7 linked regions of the Homo sapiens genome follow. The protein of the gene in region 7 purifies or fractionates together with the protein of the main gene of each other region. This does not show direct contact. Each region holds a gene or a part of one and is shown on either strand. Other genes may lie near its edges.

Region 1 (3,500 bases), on a different chromosome or scaffold from region 7:
TGGCCATAGAGATCGACTACCGCATACACCTCTGGGGAGGAGAGGGAAGGTCAGAAGCCTGACAGCCAGGTGGTCTGGGCTGAGGGTGGCAGGCTGAAAGCCACATAGTCACCTTTACCCGGAGGCAGGCCCGAGCAGGCAGCGCCTTGGTCCTGGCCGTTGATGAAGTAGTGCAGGTCGCCCTTGGCAGTTCGCATCATGCCAATGCGTGCACCTGTGCCCAGCGCATCCAGGTCACACCCATAATTGTTGCGCATCGTGTTACCGTCTTGCATGATGGCTGTACCACTGGGGGGATGGCAGAAGGGGTGAGTCAGCCTGCCAACTTCAACTTCACATTGGCCCCTGCCCACTCCCTGTCTGTCAGAACCCTCCAATGTCTTGGGCTGGTGTCTTGATCTGGGTGTAAGGCCCAATCCTATCTCCTCTGTCCCTGGGATCCCCTTAGGAAAAAGCAAGAACTGCCTAAGATGAAGGAGGACTGAGCCCCTGTGGGCCTGGGCAGGACTTCCCAGAATTCAAGGGGAGGGGACAGGTAGATCCCCTAGGTCTGTCACTACCCACAGCCACCATAGGCCCAAACCTTGCTTCCCTGATCCCAGCCAGCTCCACTCAGCCCCAAGCTGGTCCCCAAAGCAGGAAGCCCAACCTCAGCATCCATGTGTCATAGTCAATGTCTGTCATGGTGTTGGGGAATTCCAGGTCTTCAGGCCGAATAGCAGTCACTCCTGGGAGGAGGCAGGGGTAAGTCAAGGCCGATCCCCAAGGCACAGACATCCAACAGCCCCCAACACACACAGACGGCCCTCACCAGCCTCAATGGAGCCTGACCAGCGGTCCACCATCTTCTGAATGACAATTTCAAACAGCTCTCCATCCCGCAGGGCCCTGCCAGGAGACTGGCGATCAGAGAGGCTCTACTTGCATGGCTGAGGCTGGGCAGGAGGAAGGTGGGGACATGAAAGTTGAGAGACTGACCGGTTGGAGATGACGATGGCGTCATTAAACTCGCTGCGACAGTTGTGGCGGAGGGCGGTGCGGCCCCCGTTAGTGATGACTGCGTTACTGCCGTGCAGCTGATGGAAGCGCAGGTCAGAGCCCCCGGCCCCTGAGGACGGAGAGCTTGGAGACACCTGGTTGTTCCCCTCAGGGAGTGGTTCAGGAACTGGAGCCACCTCTGTAAAAGTGGACATCACCCATCAGGTCTCTAGGTGTCTCTCAGACCTCCCAAGGCCACCCTAACCCCCAGCCCCAGCCCAGCCCGGCCCTCACCCACGTCGTCCACAATGGTGGCCTGGGCCGCCTGGCCATAGAGATCGACGACAGCATAGACGCCCGGGGGCACGTTCCAGGCAGCAGGGCCCTGAGTCATCCCATTGACAAAGAAGTGGAGAGTCCCGTCCTCCCGCCGTACCACGCCCACCGTGTCCCCTGCCTTGGAAGAAGGGGGTGCTGGAGTGAGGAGTCAGGCAGAGTTCCTGCCGGGGCTGGTCCTGCATCAGCCCCGCGGTGTTTGTGATGCCCGCTGCGGCCGCCAGGCGGCGCACCCACTTTCCCACCTTGAGGCGGTCCAGATTGTGCCCGTATTCATCCAGGATGGTCGTCCCATTGTGCATCACCCCATTCCCAGTCATCATCCAGGTCCCTGGGAGGACAAGGAGCAGGAGGGGACATGAGGGGAAATGCAGGGCTCCTCTCCTTGCCACAGCAGCGCCCACAGGACTCCCGAGCCCACAGTCCACCTTGCCTTTTCTTTGATGACTAGATTTCTTCCCTGAGCAGGACAAGAAAACTCTGCAGCTTCCAAGACAGCCACAGCCCTGCCCACGGGACACTCTCTAGCCACTGAATGAGTGGTCACAAGAGTGACAAGTGAAAAAGGAGCTGCAGAACAAGTGCCAGGGCTTTGGGGATAGCTTCCCCCCAAAACCCTATCCTGTCCCTGCCCTTCCTGGGAGCTCACCAGAGCGCAAGTTGGTCATGGTGGAGGGCAACTGGAGGTAGGCAGGGTTGTGGGTGGTGACACCAATTTCAATGGAGCCAGCCCATTTGTCCACCATCTTGTCGATGCGCACCTGGAACACCTCTCCATCCCGCAGGGCTCTGCTGCTCAGCACCACGCCGTGATTGAAGTCATCGGTGGCACTGAGGGCACAGCAAGTGGAGAGTCAGATCCCCAACACACGCTCTCAATGTGCCAAGGCTTAGCCCAGCAATGCCTGCCAACACTCACTGCCCCAAGCCAAAGAACTAAAGCTCAACCTCCAGGAAGCTGCCCCCGCCAGGCTCCCTCTGCCTTCCACTTCCTTGCCCCGCCCCCCCCCCCCCATTAGAATCCCTTCTTCAGGCTTCTCCCCACCCCATGGGCCATACTGGGGCCTCAGGGCAGTGCGTCCCTCGTGGGTGATGGCTGCCTTCTGCCCACAGTTGGGGTGGAAGAGCAGGCGCTCAGGTTCTGCCTGGGCGGCAGGGGCAGCACGGCGGAGAGCACCCTCGGGGGACAGCGCCCGCAGGATGGCGTTGTTTCGGCGGAGACGGTCACTGTGGTTGTTATTGTGGACGATGGTCACCTTCACTGCCATCCCGTACAAGTCCACCACACCATACACCACTGGGGGCGTCAAGGGGGTTGCCACTCCTGTGGCAGGAAGGTACGGGGGTGTGGGAGTGGACAGGGAGAATGAGGGGAGAAAGTCAAACACAGGGAGGCCAAGCACCAAAGAGAAGCAGGAGGATGAGGTACAGCCCCCAGTCCCAGCCCCACCGAAAGCCCCGGCCCAGAGGCTCTCTCTGGGCGGCCCTTACCCTGATCGATACCATTAATGAAGAAGTGTAGGGCAGAGTTGGACTTCCTTGTGAGGCCAATGTGGTCACCCTCCTAATCAAAGAAGACAAACAGTTTAGAGGAGTCCTGAGGCCTGCTCAGCACCCCACTCCACACAGGAACAACTCCAGAAGGTATTCGTGAGAGTCTCAGACCACCCTGGAGGACAGGTCCTGGGTCCTTGTTTTCCAGACATGACAATTTCCACATTTCGTCAATGCTCCACGTGAGTCAGGCACTGAGTTAAACCACCTCACAGACATTAGCTTCTACAAGTCTCAGCCTATGGAATAAGTACTACTCGTAGGCTCATTTTAGAGATTGCAGGAGGTGGGGGAGCAATCAAAGAGGATAAGCTTCTTGCCCCGGTTCGCTACTACAAATGGGAAAACAGTAAGAGGAATTCAACCATCTGACTCCAAAATCTGAGTGCTGAACTCTTGGGCAACTCAGGCTTCTAGGAAGGAACCTTTAGGTGGAAGATACAGGGACTGCCTCTAGGTCACATAGGAGACCCTGCTTGGTGCCCTGGCAGGGACACAGAGTACCTGTGGCTCTGCTGAAAGCGGCCCAGGGATCTGTGCCCCACCCTCACCTGCAACTCATCCAGACTGAATTCGCAGTACTCCCGGCGGGTGCCCTTGCCATTGGTCAGGATTCCACAGCCGCTCATCAT
Region 2 (3,500 bases), on a different chromosome or scaffold from region 7:
TTCAGCCTGAACAACAGAGTGAGACCTTGTCTCGAAACAAAACAAAAAAGTTAGGGGAAACCTGGGCTTTGAGGTCAGACAGATACAAATTTGCATCTTGGTTACACCACTCTGGCTGTTCTGAGGAAAATCAAATAGAAGAAGTGGGGAATGAGGTGTGAAGTTGGTTAGGAGACTGTTATAGTAAAGGAGAGTAATAATGGTAAACATAGACGAGGATGGCAACAGAGGAAGAGAGTCATTTTTTAATGTATTTTCGAGGTAGAACTGACAGGACTGGTTTATGGATTGGATGTTGGGAGAGAGACGGGGAAGGGCAGGAAGGGACTTAAGGATGACTTCTAGGTTTTTAGCCCAAGCAATTGGGTGAATGGTAGAAACAGAAAGAGGTAGATATGGGAGCAAATAAGGGGCAGAGAATCAGTTTTGTTTGGATAAACTCAAATGCTTATTACATATGTAAGTAGAAATGTTAAGTAGGCAGTTGTATATACTAGTTAGAAGAGGCTGAACTAGAGATAAATTGGAGAATCGTCATCACATAGTTAATATTTAAAAGTGAAAGATTGAATGTAAAGACCTAGGAACTTGATATTGATAGGAAAAAGATCCAAGACTGAGTCTTGGGATATTCCACAATATTTAGAGCTTGGGAAGAAGAGGAAGATCCAACAAAGAAACTGAAAAGGCACAGTTGATGAGATAAAAGGAAAACCAGGTGAGTATATTAAGTGTTTGTAGAAGGAGGGAGAGAATAACTGTGTCGGATGCTGCAGAGAGATCAAGTAAGATGAGGACCAAGAAATGACCATTGGAATTGGCATGATAGAGGTGACCTTGACAAAATAAATATCTGAAAATAAATGGGATATAAAAATCATATATAAGTTGGGGAAAGGATGAGAGGTGACAAAGTAGAGAAAGCAAGATAACTCTTTTGAGGAGCTTTGCTGTATAGGAGAGCAGAGAAATGGAGTAATAGGTAGTAGTGAATGTGGCATTGGGAATGTTTTTAAAGGCTGGATAATGGAGTATGCTTGTGACATCCACGAGAGAAAAAAAGTGACACAGAAGAGAGACAGGATAACTGAAAGAAAGAGTATCTTTTCAGAAGCAAGAGGGGATGGGAACTAGTGCCCAAGGTTGGCCTTGATAGGAATAGATATTTCATGTATTAAACAGGCATCAAGGCAGAGTATATTATTACAAGTATTGGTGAATTTGTGGATTCATTTGGTAGTTAAAAGATGAGGTAATAGTTCTGATTGCCTCGGTTTACCATTAAAGTAAGAAATCATGTCATTATCTGAGGAGAGGGGCTTTAAAATTTTGAATGATTTTTTAAACTAAGAAATGAGATTTAAAGAAGTGCTTTCTCCTAGTGGCTTGCTTCAGGCAGTGTTTCCAGTTCACCCTGGGAATGCAGTCATTTTGCTCTGCCTTAGTTGTACTTAGGTGGACAAATGTGAGAAGACTAATTTATTCAGATAGCCTAAGCCCTGTAGCACGGCACACAAGGCCCTGGAGAAGCTGGCGCCTGCCTTCCAATCCTATTCTGTCACGCTCCCCTTTTATCTCCTCCCTGCTTCTCCTTGCACCCAGTTCTCTAAAATCATTATCCTGCCGACTTTCACATCACAGCACCTTTGTACATAATGTGCCCTCTGCCTAGAATGCTCTAACCAACCTCTTTTATTTTCTGGTTAAACTTGTTATCTATACTCCTCAGTTTAGCTGTGACCTCTGGGGAGCTTTCTCTGACCTCCTCATTCATGTTCAAGTGCTTTCTTTGAACCTTGCCTCATTATATTAACATTATATGTGTCTTTTTCTCCCTACCGAATTATGTGCTTTTTGAATACAGGCCTGGCACCTAGTATCCTCTTGATAAATATCTGCAGAACTGAAATGGCTATGATGTTTTTACTTAATTTTTACTTATAAAACCATGTAGCCAGGTGAGTAATAGTGGCAATCTCTATAGTAAGAAACACTGGTGATCACTACTTTTTATTAGGTCTCACATAATCTGTAGAATTATTTATTTGATTCCAATGATGTGATACAATAGATACTGAATAACCTTCTCTCTTCCTTTCTTTTCTTTCCCAGTGTGAAGAGTGGCCAGATTCGAAATCTGGAGTCTGCCCGTGTCTCAATGGTTGGCCAAGTCAAACAGTAGGTCTTACTCTTCCCCCTTGGTCTGGTTAGAGGCGGAAACATGGTGAGGGAATTACAGATTGCTTCTTTTGTCTTACACCAATTCTACCATTCCGGTAAATGCCTTTATTATTTTAAATAATTTTAAAGGTGAGTTCAGTTGGGACAGACATAGATTTTCTTTCGCCTGCCTTCCTTTCTCTCCTTCCTTTCCTTCCCTTTCTTTTTTTTCCTCCTCATTTAATACTGGATTACCTTAGCAAAACTCTGCGTGTTAAAAAGCAAATCCCAGAGCATAGACATTACAAATTATGTTAACCTTAGTGATAGCAGCTGAGTTTCATTCTAGTAACAGTCTCCTTCTAAGCCAAACCTGGCTGTGAGGGAATTATAATAAAAAAGCTCTGGCATAGCCTGAGTGAAAGCCAGATTCTAAGAGTGAGCTAAGATTATTTAGCCCAATTGATCTTTCCTGATAGAATTACATGGCATTCTGGGTATTGCTGTATAGTCACAAAATAAACTTTAGATGAATTGAGAAAATGTTGCCCAACAGAACAGACAGAAGTTAGATGAAAATGATAATGGCTTTGAGTGCTTACTATTTGCCAGGCACTGTGCAAGGTATTTTATATGCACTGTCTCATTTTTAAAACCTTATATTATGGAAAAATTTTGCACATATAAAAGAAGAGTGATACAGTGGATGGACCCCAGTGTTCCCATTGTCCATTTTCAATGGTTATTAACCCATAACCATGTCTCATTTGTTTCATCTGTGCCCCTATGTATTTCCCCTAGTCACAAAATATTTTGAAGCAAATTCCAAACAAATATAATTTCCTCTGCAAGATTTTCATATGATCTAAAAATAAGGGCTCTTTAAACATCATCACGATGACATTATTACACGTAAAAAAATTGGCAATTCTTTAATATCATCAAATATCTAATCAATATTTACATTTCTGATTGTCTCATAAATAATTTTTTACAATTAAAGTCAAAATCAAAATAAGTAGATAGCAATTGGTTGATCCACCTCTCATGCATCTTTTAATCTAAGGTTCCACTTCTGTCTCCCTCTTTTTTTTGATTCCTTGCAATTTATTTCTTGAGGAAACCTTGTTTGCCCCATAGAATTTCCCATGATCTGGATTTGCTGATTGAATTCTCAGGCCATAATTTAACATATTCCTTTGTTCCTTATATTCTGTGTAAATAGTTAAATCTAGAAGCTTCATCGGGTTCAGGTGTTTTGTTTGCAAGAATACTTGATAGGTGATGTTGCGTACTGCCATCAGGAAGTACATAATGTCTGGTTGTCTTTTTTTTTTTTT
Region 3 (3,500 bases), on a different chromosome or scaffold from region 7:
AGGCCAGAAGCGCACTGAAGACAGGTTTATTGACACTCCTGCTTCGGATCGAGCTACATGGGGTAAGGAGGGACAGTTGTGGAGAGCAGGAGGGCCCCGGGGTTCTGGGGAGCAGCAGAGAGGGAGACCCAGGGTTGCTGGTGCCACTGTGAGCACAGGCCTGCACCACACGCCTTCCCAGGAAGGCCTCCCCTCACCCAGCCAGGCCCTCCTGCTCCCTTCCCACATGCAGGGTGGGACGGGCCTGTGCATGGCCCCCAGATGAGGACCCAAGCTCCTGCAGGGGCGGTGGCCTTCAGTCAAGACAGCTGGGAGGCAGCAGATCCGTGATTAGGCTGGGACGCTGGCTCCCAGGCTCGGGTGGTGGTGCAGCGGCCTCTCCAGCCCCAGCCCCCAGGACCATTCAGACTGGTGGTGTCATGGATGAGGAGCACCTCTGCCTGGCCCAGACATGCTTGGAGCTTAGGATGGGGGCTCCTGGGCAGTGGGGAAGGGGCCCAGGGCAGGGGGGAGCCTCATACGAGTCTGGCTGGCACAAGGCTGAGCAGGAGCCCGGGGCTCACAGTGGCCGAGGCAGGGCTAGGACCAGGCCCAGGTGGGCGGGCAGCACTCAGCTGCTGTGGTAGATGCGGAGGCGCTGGGCGATGTCCTGGCGGCACAGCGGGCAGGTGCGCAGTGGCTGGCAGCACTGCTGGCAGCAGCAGACGTGGCCACAGTTGAGGAAGATCATCTGGGCCTGGGGAGGGAGAGCGGGAGCATGTGGCTGGCCCTACCGGGTTCCAGGAGTCCCAGGCCCGTCTTTTTTTTTTTTTTTTTTTTTTTTGAGACAGAGTCTCACTCTGTTGCCCAGGCTGGAGTGCAGTGGTGGGATCTCAGCTCACTGCAACCTCAGCCTCCCGGGTTTAAGTGATTCTCCTGCCTCAGCCTCCCAAGTAGCTGGGACTACAGGCGTGCACCACCATACCTGGCTAAATTTTTTGTATTTTTAGTAGAGATGGGGTTTCACCATGTTGGTCAGGCTAGTCTCGAACTCCTGACCCCAAGTGATCTGCCCGCCTCGGCCTCCCAAAGTGCTGGGATTACAGGCGTGAGCCACCATGCCGGCCCCCTTCATTATTCTTTAGCATCTTTACCATAAACGCCTGATAGTGGGGCCTTCGGGCATTTGACCACCACAGAAACAGAACAGGCACGGCCGAAACAGGTAACCTAGGCCTTCTGTTAGCAGTTTGCTGTCTATTTCTCTATAGTTTGTAAAAAATATAAATACCCATATAAATGCCCCAACTGATTCTTTCTTAAATAAAACTGGGGATTATATTCCTGCGCTCTGGACAGGCGACGGAGGCCTATTCCGCCGGCCCCTGCCGGAGGGCACGCAGGGTGTTCAGGCTTCTTTCTTGTTGATGCACTTGCCCAGGCCCTGAACTCCTCAGTCTACAAACAATCCCAACCCGGAGCAGCAGCCACTGACTCAGGACCACACTTTGCCTCAGCATCTCCTGCTTTCAGGAACTGATCCAAGCTCCGCTCAAAGCTGTCTGGAATGCCAAGGGCCCCAGAACAGGGATTATATTTGGAACCAATAGGTCCATCCATATCATGGCATGAGTCAGGTCAACGGGAGACCCTGGAATCATCAAACTGCAAACATGGCTGCTTTTCTAAGTAGGATCCCTCAGTGGAGGCAAAGGAGGATTTGTATTTCATTCACTGCTCTGTGTAATTTTTAGAGTAAGTGTTAATGAATTTTTAAAAGATGATTTTTTCTTTTTTTTGAGATGGAATCTCGATCTGTCTGCCAGGCTGGAGTGCAGTGGTGGGATCTTGGCTCACTGCAATCTCTGCCTCCCGGGTTCAAGCGATTCTCCTGCCTCAGCCTCCCAAGTATCTGGGCTTACAGGCGCCCACCACCACGCCTGGCTGATTTTTGTATTTTTAGTAGAGATGGAGTTTTACCATGTTGGCCAGGCTGGCCTCAAACTCCTGACCTCAGGTGATCCACCTGCCTTGGCCTCCAAAAGTGCTGGGATTACAGGCGTGAGCCACCATGCCTGGCCAAAAGATGATTTTCTAAAGCCTCTGCAGGGTAAATCATGTTGTTGATATTTCATGATTTGGGAAATTTTTTCCTAATGTATTTATTAAGTAGGAACAAAAAGAAAAAGGTCCGGAAAATGATGTGAGCGCAGCTCATATTTGGGTCATGGGACCAGGGGTCATCTTTATTTCCTGCCTTCTTTCTAGATGAGCACAGTCTACTTAGAGAACTGGAGAAAACACGTTCAGAGACAACCCTGTACCTGCAGAATTTGAGGAGGGTGGCCACAGGCAGGGCAGGCGGGTGGGGAGGGCCCCGGACTTACCTCCCGTTCCAGGCACACGACACACTCTGAGGCCTGCACCTCCAGCTCTGCAGGGGGAGCGGATGGCCTCACAGACTCAGGAGGCTCCTGGGGGGCCGTAGGGGTGACGACCTCACCCATTGGTGGTTTCAGCTCTGTGGGGACCAGACAGACAGACTGAGCCAGGGTCATCTCCGCTGACCCTAACCCCTGGGGGCTCATTGTGGCCCTGCCCATCCCCATGGTGAGTGAGCTGGAGGGTGGGGGAGCCTCTGCTCTCAGATCTGAGGGAAGTGCTCTCCTTGCCACACACTCTCTTCTTCTCTTCTCTGAGCCTCATTTCCCATCTGCAGAATGGGAGTGAAGTCTCTCTCTGCAGGGATGGCCGCAGCGCTTGTTAAGTGGGTCCTCTGATCTCTAATGTCCCCGGGACGCTTCATAGCCACCCTGCAAGTAGGGCTTGGCACTTTCAGAGATGAGACATTTGAGGCTCAGAGACGGGGAGTCACTCAACCCAGGGCCATGTGGCCATCTGGTGATGCAGCTGCAGATCCCTGGGGCAGGAGCTCTCAGTGAAGGGCCAGCTCTTGGCTTCTCCACCTGGTTGCCCAGGAGACAGGATGGGCTGCTGCCCATCAGGTGACCCAGGGGAGCAGAATGAGAGGCCCCCCGCAAGGCTGTTCCCCTGCCCCCAGCCCCACAGAGTCCCCAGCATGCTGGCTGCTCTGCCCTGGAGTCAGCATCCCCTGCTAAGACATCAGAAGCAGCCCTTACAAAATGCTAAGTCTCTTTTTTTTTTTTTTTTTGAGACAGTCTCGCTCTGTCACCCAGGCTGGAGTTCAGTGGCGCGATCTCGGCTCACTGCAACCTCTGCCTCCCAGGTTCAAGCAATTCTCCTTCCTCAGCCTCCCGAGTAGCTGGGATTACAGGTGCCCACTATCACGACAGGCTAATTTTTGTATCTTTAGTAGAGGTGGGGTTTCACCATGTTGGCCAGGCTGGTCTCAAGCTTTTGACTTCAGGTGATCTGCCCACCTCAGCCTCCCAGAGCGCTGGGATTACAGGCGTGAGCCAACGTGCCCGGCTGCTAAGTCTCTTTTTCTATCATGCAACGTGAGCCACCCACTTCCTTGACTCTATCCCTCGTTCCCTTCC
Region 4 (3,500 bases), on a different chromosome or scaffold from region 7:
AGACCAACCAGTGAGACCTATGGGTCAACCCTGGTTTGAATCTTGTATTCTGGACAGTGAGTTCAGGGCTGTAAACCAGCCGCAGTCTTAGAGATTAGGTTGGGTGACTGAGCACATGCTGCAATATCACAACAAGTGGGAATTACAGATTTGGCAGGAATAAAGAGAAAAGCCTTCATGACCTCCTCCTGTGTTTACAAGACTCCTCCGAGTCTCCTACCTTCAGCGTTCATGGAAATCTCCCATTCCTCTGGCTGGATGAGAATTTGCTAAATTCCTCTGCCTCAGTGCAAGATAATTTTGTTTACAACTATAGCTCACTTTTATGTTTTCCAGTCAAATCTCATGAGACCAGCAGGATGAACAGGTAACAGAGGTCAAAGAGAAAGAATGAATGCCCACCTATGGATGGAGGCAGTTTAGAGAAATATGCTTGTCCAAAGTCACAATTAACTGCACTGACACAGAGAAGCAGATATTGCACTTTTGCTCAACTAAATACCACTTTGATGACTAAGAACGGGCCCTCTGGGATCAGACAAAGGTCAGTAACTCTTACCTCAGTAAAACGGCATTATTTTTAGCTTTCTCCTCTACTCCACCAGGGGGAATATCAGTGAAGTTAGTCAGATCATTCCCACTACTGTAATAGTCACCATTTCCTATAAGTAAGAAAATCAACAGATCCCTCATTCAATCATCCTATAATTCTTGAGTATCTACTGCATGCCAAACTCTATGGTTAGGCAAGGGAAATACATTGGAGAACGAGCAATGGTTCCTGCCCTAACTTACAAACTAGTGAGTACGCTGGACACTGATCTATAAAAACACACCGATAAATGTAGCTAATGCTACTGTTGAAATAGAGGAGTGGTGCGTCATGAAATGAGGGTATGTACCAGGAGGGTTGGTCTAATCAGGGAGTTCAGGAAAGAACTTTCCTAAGGAAGCGACAACTGAATTGAGATCTGAAGGAGAGGCCAGGTGGGCTAGAAAAAGAGGGCTGGGAAGAACAGTTTACACAAAGGAACAGCCTGTGCAAAGGCTCTTTGGAGAGGTTATCCCCACTGTAGATGAAGTAAGAGCCACTGTAGCTGACTCAGGGAAAGCCAGGGGGAAGTCGGTGCAGGATGAGGACTGGCAGAATAGACCTGACAGTGCTTTGTAGATCCCATGAGGAAGTTTTTTCTTTATTCTAAGAGCCACTGAAAGTATGTTTCTGAGTGTGTGTGTTTAATTAAAGTACAATTTATATACAATAAAACAACCAGTTTTTAAATGTTCATTTAGATGAGTTTTAATAATTTTAAATACCCACAAGATCACCATCCAAAACAAGATACAGAACATCTCCATCACCCCAAAAGTTTCCCGTAGGCTCCTTCCTAGCTATCCCACCCCACCTGCTCCAAGGCAATCACTTTCTGACTTCAATTTCCACAGAGAAGAACTTTTGTCTACTGTAGAACTTTCTACAAATGGACTCATACAGTATGTACACTCCTGTCTTTATTTTGCTGAACTGTGTTTTAAAGATGCATCCACATTCTTGTGTATATCATTTATTCCATTTTATAGCTGAGTATTCCATTGTACAAATAGTCAACAATTTGTTTATTCATCCATGTGTTTTTGAACATTTGTTTTCTGGTTTTGGCCGTTATAAATCAGGTTACCATGTCTGCTCCTGTAAAAGTCTTTTGGTGGACATATGTGTCTTAATTGATGTTGGGTAATTGCGAAGGAGTGGGTATCTGTGTTTTTTTAAACATTTTTTGTATATTTATAAATCAGAGTATGACAGTACTGGAAAAGATCTTAGAGCCTTTTTTTTTTTTTTTTTTTTTTTTTTTTGAGACAGAGTCTCACTCTGTTACCCAAGCTGGAGTGCAGTGGCGCGACCTCGGGTCACTGCAAACTTTGCCTTCCAGGTTCAAGTGATTCTCCTGCCTCAGCCTCCTGAGTAGCTGGGATTACAGGTGTGTGCCACCATGCCCGGCTAATTTTTATATTTTTAGCAGAGATGGGGTTTCACCATGTTAATCAGGCTCATCTCAAACTCCTGACCTCGGGAGCCACCTGCCTCGGCCTCCAGGTCTTAGAGCTTTTTAACTCAATTTCCTATCTATTAAGAGGCCCCTCAAAATAGAAATTTAATTAGGATGCCTGAGAAAATGTCTTACCTGTTAAAACAGTGATGATTGAGTCATCCTTGCTGGCAGCTTTAAGTGCACGCATAATTTCATGATACATCTGTGTAATGGGAAGACAAGGAAAAGAAAAGAACTCTGAACACAGGAATCATCAATCAATGGACTCAACAAATGTCAGGCTGCAAGCTTGCTCTCAGCAAAGTGCCTAACATTTATTTTGGTTGTATTTTATAACCAAAAAGGTGGACCAACATAACTGAAGGAATTTTTATTCCTTTCACAGTTACCTGGTGCATATTATGTACCTGGTGCTATGGCAGGAGCTGCAGGCTATAAACCACTTTTTTTCCAAAAGGGACCAAGAAAGAAATAGTCCTTGAGCTTTTGGAATTAACAGAGGACTTAACATGTTCAATTTGGAATTAACATGTTCAAATGAGGAGGGGGTTGGAAAGTACAAAGTAGCAGGGAACTCAGAGGAGGTGCTGAGGCTTATCTAGTGTGGGCAGAGTGGGAGGTGGTCAGAGAAAACTTTCTACAAAGCAACGTCTCTGTTGTGACCTCAAGGAAGCCCCTGGCAGTCTGGGAAGTGTTAGTGACTGCCAAAAGGCTGGAATTTTCAAGACACTGTAATGGTATTCAAGGAAGGTGGCTCAAAATTTTAAATCAGCAACATTTCTGAAAATCTTGGACAAGCAGCTATATAGCTTTTAATGCATTTAAAACAGGTGCAATTTCAACCTTAGATGAGATTTCAGTGTGGGAAAGAAATGAGGAAGAGGGCTGATACTTATAGATACAAATATACTGGAAAAGACACATGGACTTTACATAAAACAGCCTGCCCTCCGTATCCACGGGTTCCACATCCATGGACAACCAATCACAGATCAAAAATACCTGGAAAAGAATTCTGTATCTATACTGAACATGTACAGGCTTTTTCTCTTATCATTAGTCCCTAAACAATACAGTATAACAACAATTTAATATAGCATTTACATTGTATTCAGTATTATAATAACTCTAGAGATGATTTAAAGTATATGGGAGTGTATATAGAGGTTATATGCAAATATTATGCCTTTTTATGGGGGACTTCAGGTTCCGCGGATTTTGTTGTCCACACGGAGGTCCTGGAACCAATCCCCATCGGATACCAAGGGATGACTGTACATGAATAAGCGTTTAAGCATTTCTCCTGAGGGAAGTGATAAGGAACTCATTCTATCATTATTATAGTTATGATAACACCACACAGCAGGGCGACTGGTGAGACCAGGATTAGGAGATGGATTATCAGGGTTCCTTCCTTCCAACTGGTGAGACCAGGATTAAGAGATG
Region 5 (3,500 bases), on a different chromosome or scaffold from region 7:
TTTCACTGTTCCTGAGTCATTTCCTGAGTGCATGAGTTGATTCTCTGAGGATTGGGTGGACTCCCCCTACCTGGGGCTCCCAGGCAAGGCCACATCTCAGGCACTGAGGGTCCTGACCTTGGGGCTATGTGTTCCCTCTAGCCTGAGGCCCTCCCAGGTAGGGCCAGGTGGCCATTTCCTTCATTTCCTCACCAGCACTCAAGCTAGGGCTTTACCCATGTCACAGAGCTAGGCACGCTCACACAGATGCATACCTGCATACATACAGACACATGGGGTACATGTACGAACACAGGTACTGACAGTAAACAGTTACAGGGGCCTACAGTGGCACATTCAGAAGCAAATGTGCCTGCAGTTGTACAGGTGCCCAGATATTCTAACACAGGGACACAACTGTAGATGTGAACACAAATAGGACCACATAGACACAGATAAGGCAGAGCCGTGAACATGGATGTGTGTACACACTGCACCAGTATGCAGACGGTGAGCACACGTGTACATGGATTCACGGAGACCCATCCCGCACCTTGTTTTTCTCGAGCTTCTGCCGCTGCCGTTCCTCCAGGGCTGCACGGCGTTGCTCGGCTTTAAGACGTTGCTCCTCCAGCCGGCGCCGGCGCTCCTGGAGCTGCTTCTCCCGCAGCGCCTTGGCCTTCTCCTCCTTCTCCAGCCACACTGCCTTCTTGGCCGCTGTGGACAAAGGAGCCCAGTGGCGTGTGTGAAGGGTTCTGCAGAAGGCCTGGGCCAAGGACATTTCCTCCAAGTGGCCAGCCCTGCTACCCATGCCCTGGGTGGGTCTTTCTCCCGCCTGCTTAGGTGGAGCTTTCAGTCTGAGACAACCCCCTCAAATTGAGAGGCTTACTGAAGACAGGACTCAGGAGAGGCCTATTTCTCCTCCATTGGCCTTATGGGCTCTCAGGGCTGAAGGAGAAATGAATGCTTGAGTGCAAGATCCCCATCTGACCTGGGGGGCCTACCAGACAGATGTCCACATACTGTGATTAAGAGCATGGGATTTGGGGTGGCAGGAGGCTTCTGGGTCTGAATGTCAGCTACTCTACTAGCTGTGTGGCTTAAGCAAATGATTTCATCTCTCTGAGCCTCTGTTTCCTCCTCAAAATGGGTTGAGGATTAAATTAGATGTGTGTCCTGCTCTTAGCACAGTGCACATAATTAAGTGTTGCAGAAGTGTTGGTTTTTTTTTTTTTTTTTTTTTTTTGAGACGGAGTTTTGCTCTTGTTGCCCAGACTGGAGTGCAATGGCACAATCTCGGCTCACCACAACCTCCGCCTCCCAGGTTCAAGCAGTTCTCCTATCTCAGTCTCCCGAGTAGCTGGGATTACAGGGATGTGCCACCATGCCTGGCTAATTTTTTGTATTTTTAGTAGAGACAGGGTTTCTCCACATTGGTCAGGCTAGTCTCAAACTCCTGACCTCAGGTGATTCGCCCGCCTCGGCCTCCCAAAGTGCTGGGATTACAGGCGTGAGCCACTGCGCCCCAGCCTGTTGGTGTTATTAATAGGATGCTGATGATGACGATGAAGAAGATGATGAGGCTTCCTGCTCACTCACCCAGGTACTTGGCCCGCTCTTCTCGCCGCTCCTTTGCCAGCTTGTGTCTCTCTCCTGCCTTCTTCACCTCTGAGCAGAGGGAACAAGAACAGACAGGTCAAAAGGCTGTCCCCAAAGAGGAGTCAGCCTCAGATCCCTCCCTCCGGGCCTCACCCCATCCTTTCTTTATCTCCTCTAGGGCAAACAGGACTCTTTCAGTTGGCATGATCCAGGGCCAGGACCCTGAGCCAAGAGGTTTAGGCCCAGGCCGGGGTCATTACACACACCTTGCTTGGTGGGAGGGCTGTCGGAGGCTGGCACTGCTGTTGGAGATGGCTGGCTGCTCCTTCGAGGAGGTCTGGCATCCCGTGGGCCCATGGCTGGTGGGGTGGGTCCTCTGCTCTTTGCTTCAGAGGAAGGGGACTCTTCCTGCGGGGGGGCTGGCCTAGGCCCGACCTGCCCTGAGGGGCTCTCTGGTTCCAGTGGGAGCTGCTTAGAGCTAGTGGCATTCTTCATGGCAGGAGGGGTGTCCGGGGGAGTGTCGGGGACCAGGGCTGACATTGGTGGTGGTGGGGGGGAAGGGTCACCTTCTGGAGAAGGTCTTGGCTCTGGGGGGGTCCTGGCGACCACAGCTGAAAGACCAACACAAGAGAGGAGAGAGGTCAGATTGCTCATCTGTGCCATCAGCCCCATATGTGGCCCTCTCCCTTGTTCAACCGACTTCTTCATTCACTTATGTTTGAGTTATTTCTATGTGCCGGGCCCTGTTCCAGATACTCATGATATAATGGTGAGAAAATAGCCATGATCCCTGCCTCTGTGGCGCTTACCCTCTAGCAGGGCAGACAGACAAATAGCTAGGCAACTACAGTAGAGAATAAATACTATGTCTGGGGCAGCAAAGCAGAGATAGTTAACCTATATGGGGAGGGCTTGCTGAAGAAGTAACAACCAAGCTGAGATCCGAAGGATAAGCTGGAGTCAGCAAAGCAAGGAGGAGAGGTGTTGGCAGAGAAGAGTATATGCGAAGGGGCAGAATGGAGCAGGGTGTGTTGGAAAAGCTGAGAACAAGCTTGTAGCACTTATTCGTGCACCAAATGCACTGATTGTTTCCATGTCTGCCTCCCTCTCCTTTCTGCTTTACTTCTGGGTGACTGTGCCCAACCCAAGGTCTGTTCACAGAGGGTGCCAGTGCTGGGCACATGGGACTGACCAAGAGGAAGGACGTAAGTATGGGCTCTAGTGGAATGCTTTGCTGTGAAGATTCCATTGGCAACAAGCTACGTCCACTTTATAATCTTTTTTCCCCAAGCCACACCGAAATTTCTGCTTTTAAGACATGACTATTGTAGGAATCCTGTAAAAGACATCGAAGTGAAGTAAGGGAGCCACACGATTTGACATATACACATGTGGGGCAATTGAGAGACAGGCTTCAGAGTCAGTCAGATGAGGAAGATGGGAAGAGAGGGCTTGTTTCCCCAGCAGACAACCATGGACAAGCCAGTCAACCTCTCTCAGCCTCAGGTTTTTTTGTTTTGTTTTGTTTTGTTTCCCCCCAAGTCTACTTGCTGCTAGTGAATTTTTCAAGGGTCTAGTTAGTTCCTTTAAGTCTCTTTTTTTAAATTTTTATTTTTTAAGAGATAGGGTCTTGCTATGTGGCCCAGGCTGGATTCAAACTCCTGAGTTCAAGAGATCCTTCTGCCTCAGTCTCCCAAGTAGCTGGGATTACAGGCCCATGCCTGGCTCAGCCTCAGTTTTGATACCTGTAAAATGGGGATAACAAGCCCAAGCTAGTAGGGAATGTCAGCAAGGTGCCTGGCACTATCCACATGCCAGCCAGCAAACAGCACTCCCTGTTGGTCTTATGAAGCCTCCTGGTCTCCCAAACAGAAGCTTCTGTATGTTGAGCCCTGGTGCCATCTGCTGCTACCATCCAGGCA
Region 6 (3,500 bases), on a different chromosome or scaffold from region 7:
GATCATTCTTTGTTTCAGGGCTGTCCTGTGGATTGCAGGATGTTTAGCAGCTTCCCTGGCTTCTACCCAGCTAGTTATCCCCCTTCCCAATTGTGACACCCAAAAGGCCTCCAGGCATTGATTGCTGCATGTCCTCTAGGGGGCAGCACCACACACATTCCCACCCCAGCCACTGCGCCATAGACTATAAAGTCAGTTTTTGAGAGTCCTCTTCACTACGCCCCCTAATTTCCCACTACCCCTCTCCCCATTTGCAGCCATCTCGGCCACTACCTGCTCATCACTCACTTGCCTGTGAGGGACAGGGTCACAGGTGCTGTAGATGTCATTGGAGAACTGCACCCGGAGTTCAGGGCTGCCCATCAGGGCTGGGCCACCTGCTCCCTCTGAAATGGTGCCTTCTCCATGATCAGAATGGCGTCCTCTCCAGCCCCAGCCTCAGTCACCCGCAGGCAGAGACATCATCCATGGGCCCAGGGGCAGAGCCACAGGCCAGGTCTGGAGAATGCAGGGCCAGAAGCTCCAGGTGCCTGTGAGATCCTGAGAGGCTGATGACAATGAACCATGATATTGTTTGGAGAGCCTTTCCCTGGAGCCACTGCCCTCTGTTGGAAGCAGGGAGATGAAGATTTGGGGAGCTCCTGCCTTTCTCTGCCAGCATCTTTCCTGCACTAGAGCCCGAGGGCTTGGGGATGAATGGAGAGGGGCTTTTGAGGGTGACATCCTGGGAGACCCTCCCCAGCTAGCTTGTCTTCAGCTTGGGGGGAGGAAGAAGAGCTCCAGGTAGGATTTGTGGGTTTTATTTGGATCACCCCATTTCCCGCACTGGAGAGGGATGTACAGAAGCATTAGTGTCTCGGCAGCAGGAGCCTGGAGATGCTGGCCTGCTCTGTCTCAAGATCTTTAAATGTTAAGAGGAGCAGGATGGTCGGAATATTTATGGCAGCAAGAATAACAGTGGTCAAAGTGTCCTCGGTAACCTGAGCGGGGCACTGGGTCCCTTTCAAATGGGTATATTTTCAATATAGTAATACAATATTCTGCACATATATAGATACATAGAATAAAATAGCTATCTATATCTATATACCTTCCAAGTCTTCACATCTCTATATTTTGCCAATTTGTTTCAAAACTTTTTTGTTTTTATTTTTAAGAAATAAAGCATCGCAGATGCAAACCCCCCGGACGCCCTCCCCGATGCTGCCCCTCCCCCATAAAACCACTATCCTGCATTTGATGTTGATCATTCCCATGCACTTATAAAAAATAGACTAATAGATAGGATTTTTTTTAACAGCTTTCTTGAGGTATAATTTACATACCATAAAATTCACCCATTGTAAGTGTGCAATTCACTTATTTTTAAAGTAAATTTGCAGAGCTATGCAACCGTCACCACAATGCAGTATTATAACATTTCCATCATCCCCAGAAAGATCCCCCACGCCCATTTGCCATCAATCCCCTTCCCACCACAGCCCATGGACCTTTTAATGTTTTTCCCTTTTTAACATTCCCTAAAATCTTGTATTGTCGTGAATGTTTTAAAACTATAAATAAGCACTTTTGAGATCTATGTCGATCCAGCTAGCTCCAGTTCGTTTTAACTGTCGCTTACTATGGCATTGATGAACATGCCCCTGTTTTTTCAAGCTCGTGCCGGGAACTGTTAGGATGTTTCCAGCAGTTGACTTTCTTACAGCTGCCTCCTTGCACAGGGTCCCACGGTCTTGGGGTTTGTGTGTTTTCAACTTTGCACTTACATCCTCAGGGTTCCCTTTGCTCTCTGTTCTTGCTAACACTCCGTATCATCAGACTTTTCAGTCTTTGCCAATCCAATAGGTGCAAAAGTGGTGCTTGTTCACACCAGTGAGGTTGAGCAGCTTTTCATACCTTTATCGGCTATCTGAGTTTCCTCTTCCGTGAATTACCAGTTTTTGTCCTTTGCCTGTTTTTCGATATATTGGGTTATTTGTCTTTTATTGATTGGCGGGATTTATTTATACATTTGGGATACTAATCCTTCAGGTAATTACATTAGTTTTTTGTTTTCCCCTGGAGGAGTCTGCAGATTCAGAGAGGTGGAGGCATGTGCCTGAGGTCACACAGCAAGGAGTGGCTGCGTGGGAATTGGGCTACATGCCCTTGTGTCTGGGAGAAACATAGGGGGATCCTGTGATTCCACCACGGAGCTGACTGACCTTGGATGGGTCACTTAGGCTTCTGGACCCCGGTTTCCCCTTATATGAGATACTGGGGCCATCCCAGGCCCTTCTCTGATCTCACCATTTATTCAGCCCCGACTGAAGAAGTGCAAGCCACCGCCAGCCCTTAGTCATTCTCACCCCAGGAAGCTCTGGGTAGATGGTGCCCCTGGAGTGATGGCTCTGCAGGCTCTGTACTGCCAGCCCTGAAACCTCCCTCTTTGATTTGCCAGGCTCCAGAAGCCTAGGGGTCACTGTGCTGAGCAGCTGAGTTTGGAAGAGTAGATTGCGCCCTTAGTAGGCATTACTGGCATTCTCAGTCCCTTAAGGGGCCTCCAGCAGGTGAGCCCAATGGTCTAGAACAAACCATGGATCTGCTGCCCAAATTAGCTTCATTATCTTCTCCAGCCCCCAGTTTCCTCCCTCTCCTCCTATCCCTGGCACCTGTTTTGTGGGAACACAGAGGGCAGGGCAGCAAAGTTGAGTGGAAAGAACTCGGGTGTTAGAGGTAAACATCTGGGTTCAAGTTCTTCATGGCCTTGGACAACTGGCCGAATGCCCCCCCTTAGTTTTTACATTTGTAAAATAGGTGCAGTGACTTCCTTCTGGGACGATTGTGCAGGCTTTTGGTGATGTATGCACGGAATCTGTGCTCCAGCCCTGCTGCTGGGAAGAATAAAACTGCTAGCACATGTCTTTCCAACCCACCGTTACCTTCATGATGAAAAGACCTGGCTTTGAATTCTCTTCAAGCGCTCCTGAGCGGGGTGACCTTGCACTATGTGAGGATCTGTAAAATGGGAATAGTCATAGTACCTAGCACACAATGCTCAGCCTCATGGGTATAAAAGGCACTCAATAAATCACTTGAACCTGGGAGGTGGAGGTTGCAGTGAGCCGAGATTGCGCCACTTCACTCCAGCCTGGGTGACAAAGGGAGACTCTGTCGGCAAAAATAAAATAAAGGTACTCAATAAATGGTAGTCATGAAAAGTACTATTGATGATAATAATAGTCGTGATCTAAATTTCTGCACCGCTTTCCGGCCTGCTGCCCAGAAGGCACACTATGCAGTTTTCGTGGTCTTTTCATTCAAGAGGCATTCTGGGGGATACCTGCCCCAGGCTGGGCCCATGCTGCTGCTGGGATAGGCCCCCGGGAGCAAGGCAGAGCCATTCCTACCTATTGCACAGGAGAGTTCTTGTCCTCTACTGTGTCTGTGTCACAAGAGTTAGGGCCCTCTTAAGGCCCCTTGGGTAGGTTTTTCTTTAACGACTATTGCTTTCTTTGGAT
Region 7 (3,500 bases):
GAAATTATAGTTAACAATAATTTTGTGTATTTCAAATTAGCTAGAAGAGAAAAATTGTAATGTTCCCAACACAAAGAAAAGATAAATGTTTGAGGTGATGAACATGCTAATTACCCTGATTCATCGTATACATTGTATACAGGTATCAAAATATGACATGTATGCAAAAAATATGTACAACTATTATATATCAATTTATAAAAACTCTGGGCCAGGTGCGGTGGCTCTCGCCTGTAATCCCAGCACTTTGGGAAGCTGAAGAGGGCAGATCACTTGAGCTCAGGGATTCCAGACCAGCCTGGCCAACACAGGGAAACACCATCTCTACTAAAAATAGAAAACTTAGCCGGGCATGGTGGCAGGCACCTGTAATCCCAACTACTCAGGAGGCTGAGGCAGGAAAATCACTTGAACCTGGGAGGCAGAGGTTGCAGTGAGCCGAGATCGTGCCACTGCGTTCCAGCCTGGGTGACAGAGTGAGACTGTCTCAAAACAAACAAACAAACAAAAAACAAAACAATTAAAAAAAACTCTGATAAAAGAATGCCATGCATGTTTTCTACAAAAAGTAAGCCAATGATTTCTTCATAAGAAGCCAGACCCATGACGTCATTCACTGTTGCTATACAGGTTGAGCATCCCTTACCTAAAATTCCAAAATCTGAACTGCTCCAATGAACATTTCCTTTAAGCATTATGTCAGCACTCAAAAAATCTCAGATTCTGGGCTGGGCGTGGTGGTTCACGCCTGTAATCCTAGCACTTTGGGAGGCCAAGGCGGGCAAATCACGAGGTCAGGAGATCGAGACCATCCTGGCTAACACAGTGAAACCCCGTCTCTACTAAAAATACAAAAAATTAGCTGGGCGTGGTGGCGGGTGCCTGCAGTCCCAGCTAATCGGGAGGCTGAGGCAGAAGAATGGTGTGAACCCGGGAGGCGGAGCTTGCAGTGAGCCAAGATCACGCCACTGCACTCCAGCCTGGGCAACGGAGCGAGACTCAGTCTCAAAAAAAAAAAAAAAAAATTCAGATTCTGGAGAATTTCGGATTTTGGATGCTGAACTGAAAACATTCCCAAATCTGAAAAAATCCAAAACATTTCTGGTCCTAAGCATTTCAGATAAAGGATACTCAAACCTGTATATCGATAAGCTGGGAATTCTCTTATCAGCTCCTAGATGGAAACTGAGGTATAGCTGAAGAAATGTTGGCAGAACGAGAAATCAAAATTCTGAGTCTCCTTTGCCAGAGAAATGCAAAAAGTTACCTGACAAGTGACCAACAAATGCTTTTGTTACAAATAGTTTTTAAAATTTAAAAAGGTTCTATTATAGGACTGACATAACTCCATGTAGAGGGGGCTGGAAAGGAATGCATCAAAAGGGCACATGCGTGCTAAGATGGTGGGCACTCTCCCCTTCCTCCAAATCCTGACGGTATTACTAAACTGTTTAGAGGGATCATAAAACAAAACAGAACCAGGGCCCACCCTTCTCACGGCACCAGCTCCAGCATAGTCCTTTATCCTGCCCCACTGAGGCAGGCCTGTAGGTGGCCCTGGCAACATCCTGACCTCCCATGCACTCACTGACCGAGAGTGAAGCAGCCTCTGGTCATGCCCTCAAAGGCAGGCAGAGAGCATTAGCTATGAGCACACTCCCAACTCCAGTTCTGATTCCCACTTGCTCGCACCCAGGAACCTGCGAGACCTCAAGCCTGTGAGGCCTGTTCCCAGTGAAGCGGGCCTCACCTGGCCTTACCTTCAGGAAGCTGGCCATGGTGCTGACGTGGCTGGCACAGGCTCCCTTCCGCACATCGTTCACGCCCTCGCCTGTCTGCAACACAAGGATGCCCAGGTTGACCCAGGCCTCCCCCAAAGCCACTTCCCTTCCCTGGGGACCCAACATCTACCCTGTGTCCCAGAAAAGAGAAAACTGCAACCCCCAAAGCAGAACCTATTCTTCTGACTGCATCACATGGGTGAGGTAAGTTCCCATGCCTCCAAGGGGCTCATGGATTCTCCCTGGGCAGGATGGCTACCGGCTTTCGCTGTGGGGGCATTTCATGAATTTTCTTTTTTTTTTTTTTTTTGGAGATGGAGTCTTGCTCTGTGGCCCAGGCTGGAGTACAGTGGCGCAATCTTGGCTCACTGCAACTTCTGCCTCCTGGGTTCAAGCAATTCTCTTGCCTCAGCCTCCTGAGTAGCTGGGACTACAGGTGCACGCTGCCATGCCCAGCTAATTTTTTGTATTTTAGTAGAGATGGGGTTTCACCATGTTGCCCAGGCTGGTCTCAAACTCCTGAGCTCAGGCAGTCCACCCACCTCGGCCTCCCAAAGTTCTAGGATGACAGGTGTGAGCCACCCCACCCAGCCTTCAAGAGTTTTCTTGATCCCCACCAAGGGATCAAGGAGGCCCTGTCCCTGTACTCCCAGGCTCCTAAACACTCCCTCAGGCTCTCTACTCCATCAGAACAACCACCCTCAAGAGCACGGAGCAAGGACTCCCTGTGACTGCTTTTAATCCATTTTGCAGGAAGAACTCTAGGCTTGGAAGGTGAATTCTGCATAGCAAAGCCACAGTTATTCTTTGGGCCACAATGAATCTGTCAACTATTCTGCTCATTCACCAGCTCAGAGCTGTTCTATTGATCTACTAAGTCATGCCAGTAAAACACTTTGTTCCTGAAGTCAAGTCAAAACAGGAAAGAAGACAATGGGGTTTCCTGGGTCACACCTAGATGAAACAGGCTCCACATACCCAGTTGATGAGGACAAATTTGGGCAGTCCAGAGTTGGGGTCCTTCACTCTGCAGAAGGCGTACATCACCTTCCCGCTGTTGAGCTCCTCCACCATCTCCTCCAGGCCACCCTCTGCAGCAGAGTCACAGTGAAGGTCAGGGGTGGCCCTGACATTCCCTGCTGGCCCTGGTCCCACCATGAAGGGAGGCCGAGCTGCTTCTAAACCAGGGCTTCTCACCTCTACCTGTATCAGAATCTTTCTAGGGGTATGTTTAAAATCAGAGTCCTGGGCACCACCCTCACTAAACTGATTGATGAGAGCTGGGTGGGACCTAGAAGTCTGCGATTCTGACAAGTACCTCAGGTAATTTTTTTTACCCACACTCGTTTAAAAACCACTTCTCTAAACCCAGAGGTAATTCTGGAAATAAAAACAGGGTCATTTCCACGGCAAACCAGCCACCAGACTTCCAAATGGAGGATGGCTACGTCAAAATTTTATTGTTGCCACAACGTTGCAAAAGGGCCCGGAATAGCAGGGCCTGTAGAGTCACCACTGCCTGCACCTGTGTCTGCTCAAGTTCCAGGGCCACCCAGACGGCCAGACCAGATTGAACATCCTGCAGTGGCGTAACTGGCTCAGTCCTCAGACTCCAGAAGAGAGGGTGATGGGGACAGGGGGAGCACAGGAGTGGGCAGCTCTAAACAATTCTCCCTGACACTGAGGCTTAGCCCTCACAAACTTTTCCAGGTTATAAGG

What was found.
Region 1: the proteins of DBNL (region 7) and NEURL4 purify together in Homo sapiens (co-immunoprecipitation; 6 studies listed by BioGRID and IntAct, with this or other methods). This does not show direct contact.
Region 2: the proteins of DBNL (region 7) and PPME1 fractionate together in Homo sapiens (co-fractionation; one large-scale study listed by BioGRID). This does not show direct contact.
Region 3: the proteins of DBNL (region 7) and LRSAM1 fractionate together in Homo sapiens (co-fractionation; one large-scale study listed by BioGRID). This does not show direct contact.
Region 4: the proteins of DBNL (region 7) and ECI2 purify together in Homo sapiens (affinity purification with mass spectrometry; 3 studies listed by BioGRID and IntAct, with this or other methods). This does not show direct contact.
Region 5: the proteins of DBNL (region 7) and MAP7D1 purify together in Homo sapiens (affinity purification with mass spectrometry; one large-scale study listed by BioGRID and IntAct). This does not show direct contact.
Region 6: the proteins of DBNL (region 7) and SH3PXD2B purify together in Homo sapiens (affinity purification with mass spectrometry; one large-scale study listed by BioGRID and IntAct). This does not show direct contact.

What each region holds. Positions count from the first base shown.
Region 1 is NC_000017.11:7,322,836-7,326,335, forward strand, and holds part of NEURL4 (neuralized-like protein 4), read right to left. Parts: coding exon 3,420-3,500; intron 2,879-3,419; coding exon 2,806-2,878; intron 2,639-2,805; coding exon 2,374-2,638; intron 2,146-2,373; coding exon 1,964-2,145; intron 1,646-1,963; coding exon 1,560-1,645; intron 1,436-1,559; coding exon 1,273-1,435; intron 1,178-1,272; coding exon 979-1,177; intron 889-978; coding exon 812-888; intron 729-811; coding exon 650-728; intron 289-649; coding exon 113-288; intron 32-112; coding exon 1-31. UniProt on the Homo sapiens protein: Promotes CCP110 ubiquitination and proteasome-dependent degradation. By counteracting accumulation of CP110, maintains normal centriolar homeostasis and preventing formation of ectopic microtubular organizing centers.
Region 2 is NC_000011.10:74,233,789-74,237,288, forward strand, and holds part of PPME1 (protein phosphatase methylesterase 1), read left to right. Parts: intron 1-2,112; coding exon 2,113-2,178; intron 2,179-3,500. UniProt on the Homo sapiens protein: Demethylates proteins that have been reversibly carboxymethylated. Demethylates PPP2CB (in vitro) and PPP2CA. Binding to PPP2CA displaces the manganese ion and inactivates the enzyme.
Region 3 is NC_000009.12:127,500,010-127,503,509, reverse strand, and holds the end of LRSAM1 (E3 ubiquitin-protein ligase LRSAM1), read right to left. Parts: intron 2,501-3,500; coding exon 2,367-2,500; intron 737-2,366; coding exon 611-736; 3' UTR 11-610; downstream 1-10.
Region 4 is NC_000006.12:4,125,576-4,129,075, forward strand, and holds part of ECI2 (enoyl-CoA delta isomerase 2), read right to left. Parts: intron 2,257-3,500; coding exon 2,187-2,256; intron 663-2,186; coding exon 560-662; intron 545-559; exon of another isoform or gene 1-544. UniProt on the Homo sapiens protein: Able to isomerize both 3-cis and 3-trans double bonds into the 2-trans form in a range of enoyl-CoA species. Has a preference for 3-trans substrates.
Region 5 is NC_000001.11:36,169,660-36,173,159, reverse strand, and holds part of MAP7D1 (MAP7 domain-containing protein 1), read right to left. Parts: intron 2,190-3,500; coding exon 1,845-2,189; intron 1,648-1,844; coding exon 1,579-1,647; intron 697-1,578; coding exon 533-696; intron 1-532. UniProt on the Homo sapiens protein: Microtubule-stabilizing protein involved in the control of cell motility and neurite outgrowth. Facilitate microtubule stabilization through the maintenance of acetylated stable microtubules.
Region 6 is NC_000005.10:172,448,026-172,451,525, reverse strand, and holds part of SH3PXD2B (SH3 and PX domain-containing protein 2B), read left to right. Parts: intron 1-3,500. UniProt on the Homo sapiens protein: Adapter protein involved in invadopodia and podosome formation and extracellular matrix degradation. Binds matrix metalloproteinases (ADAMs), NADPH oxidases (NOXs) and phosphoinositides.
Region 7 is NC_000007.14:44,051,202-44,054,701, reverse strand, and holds part of DBNL (drebrin-like protein), read right to left. Parts: intron 2,937-3,500; exon of another isoform or gene 2,873-2,936; coding exon 2,760-2,872; intron 1,836-2,759; coding exon 1,761-1,835; intron 1-1,760. UniProt on the Homo sapiens protein: Adapter protein that binds F-actin and DNM1, and thereby plays a role in receptor-mediated endocytosis.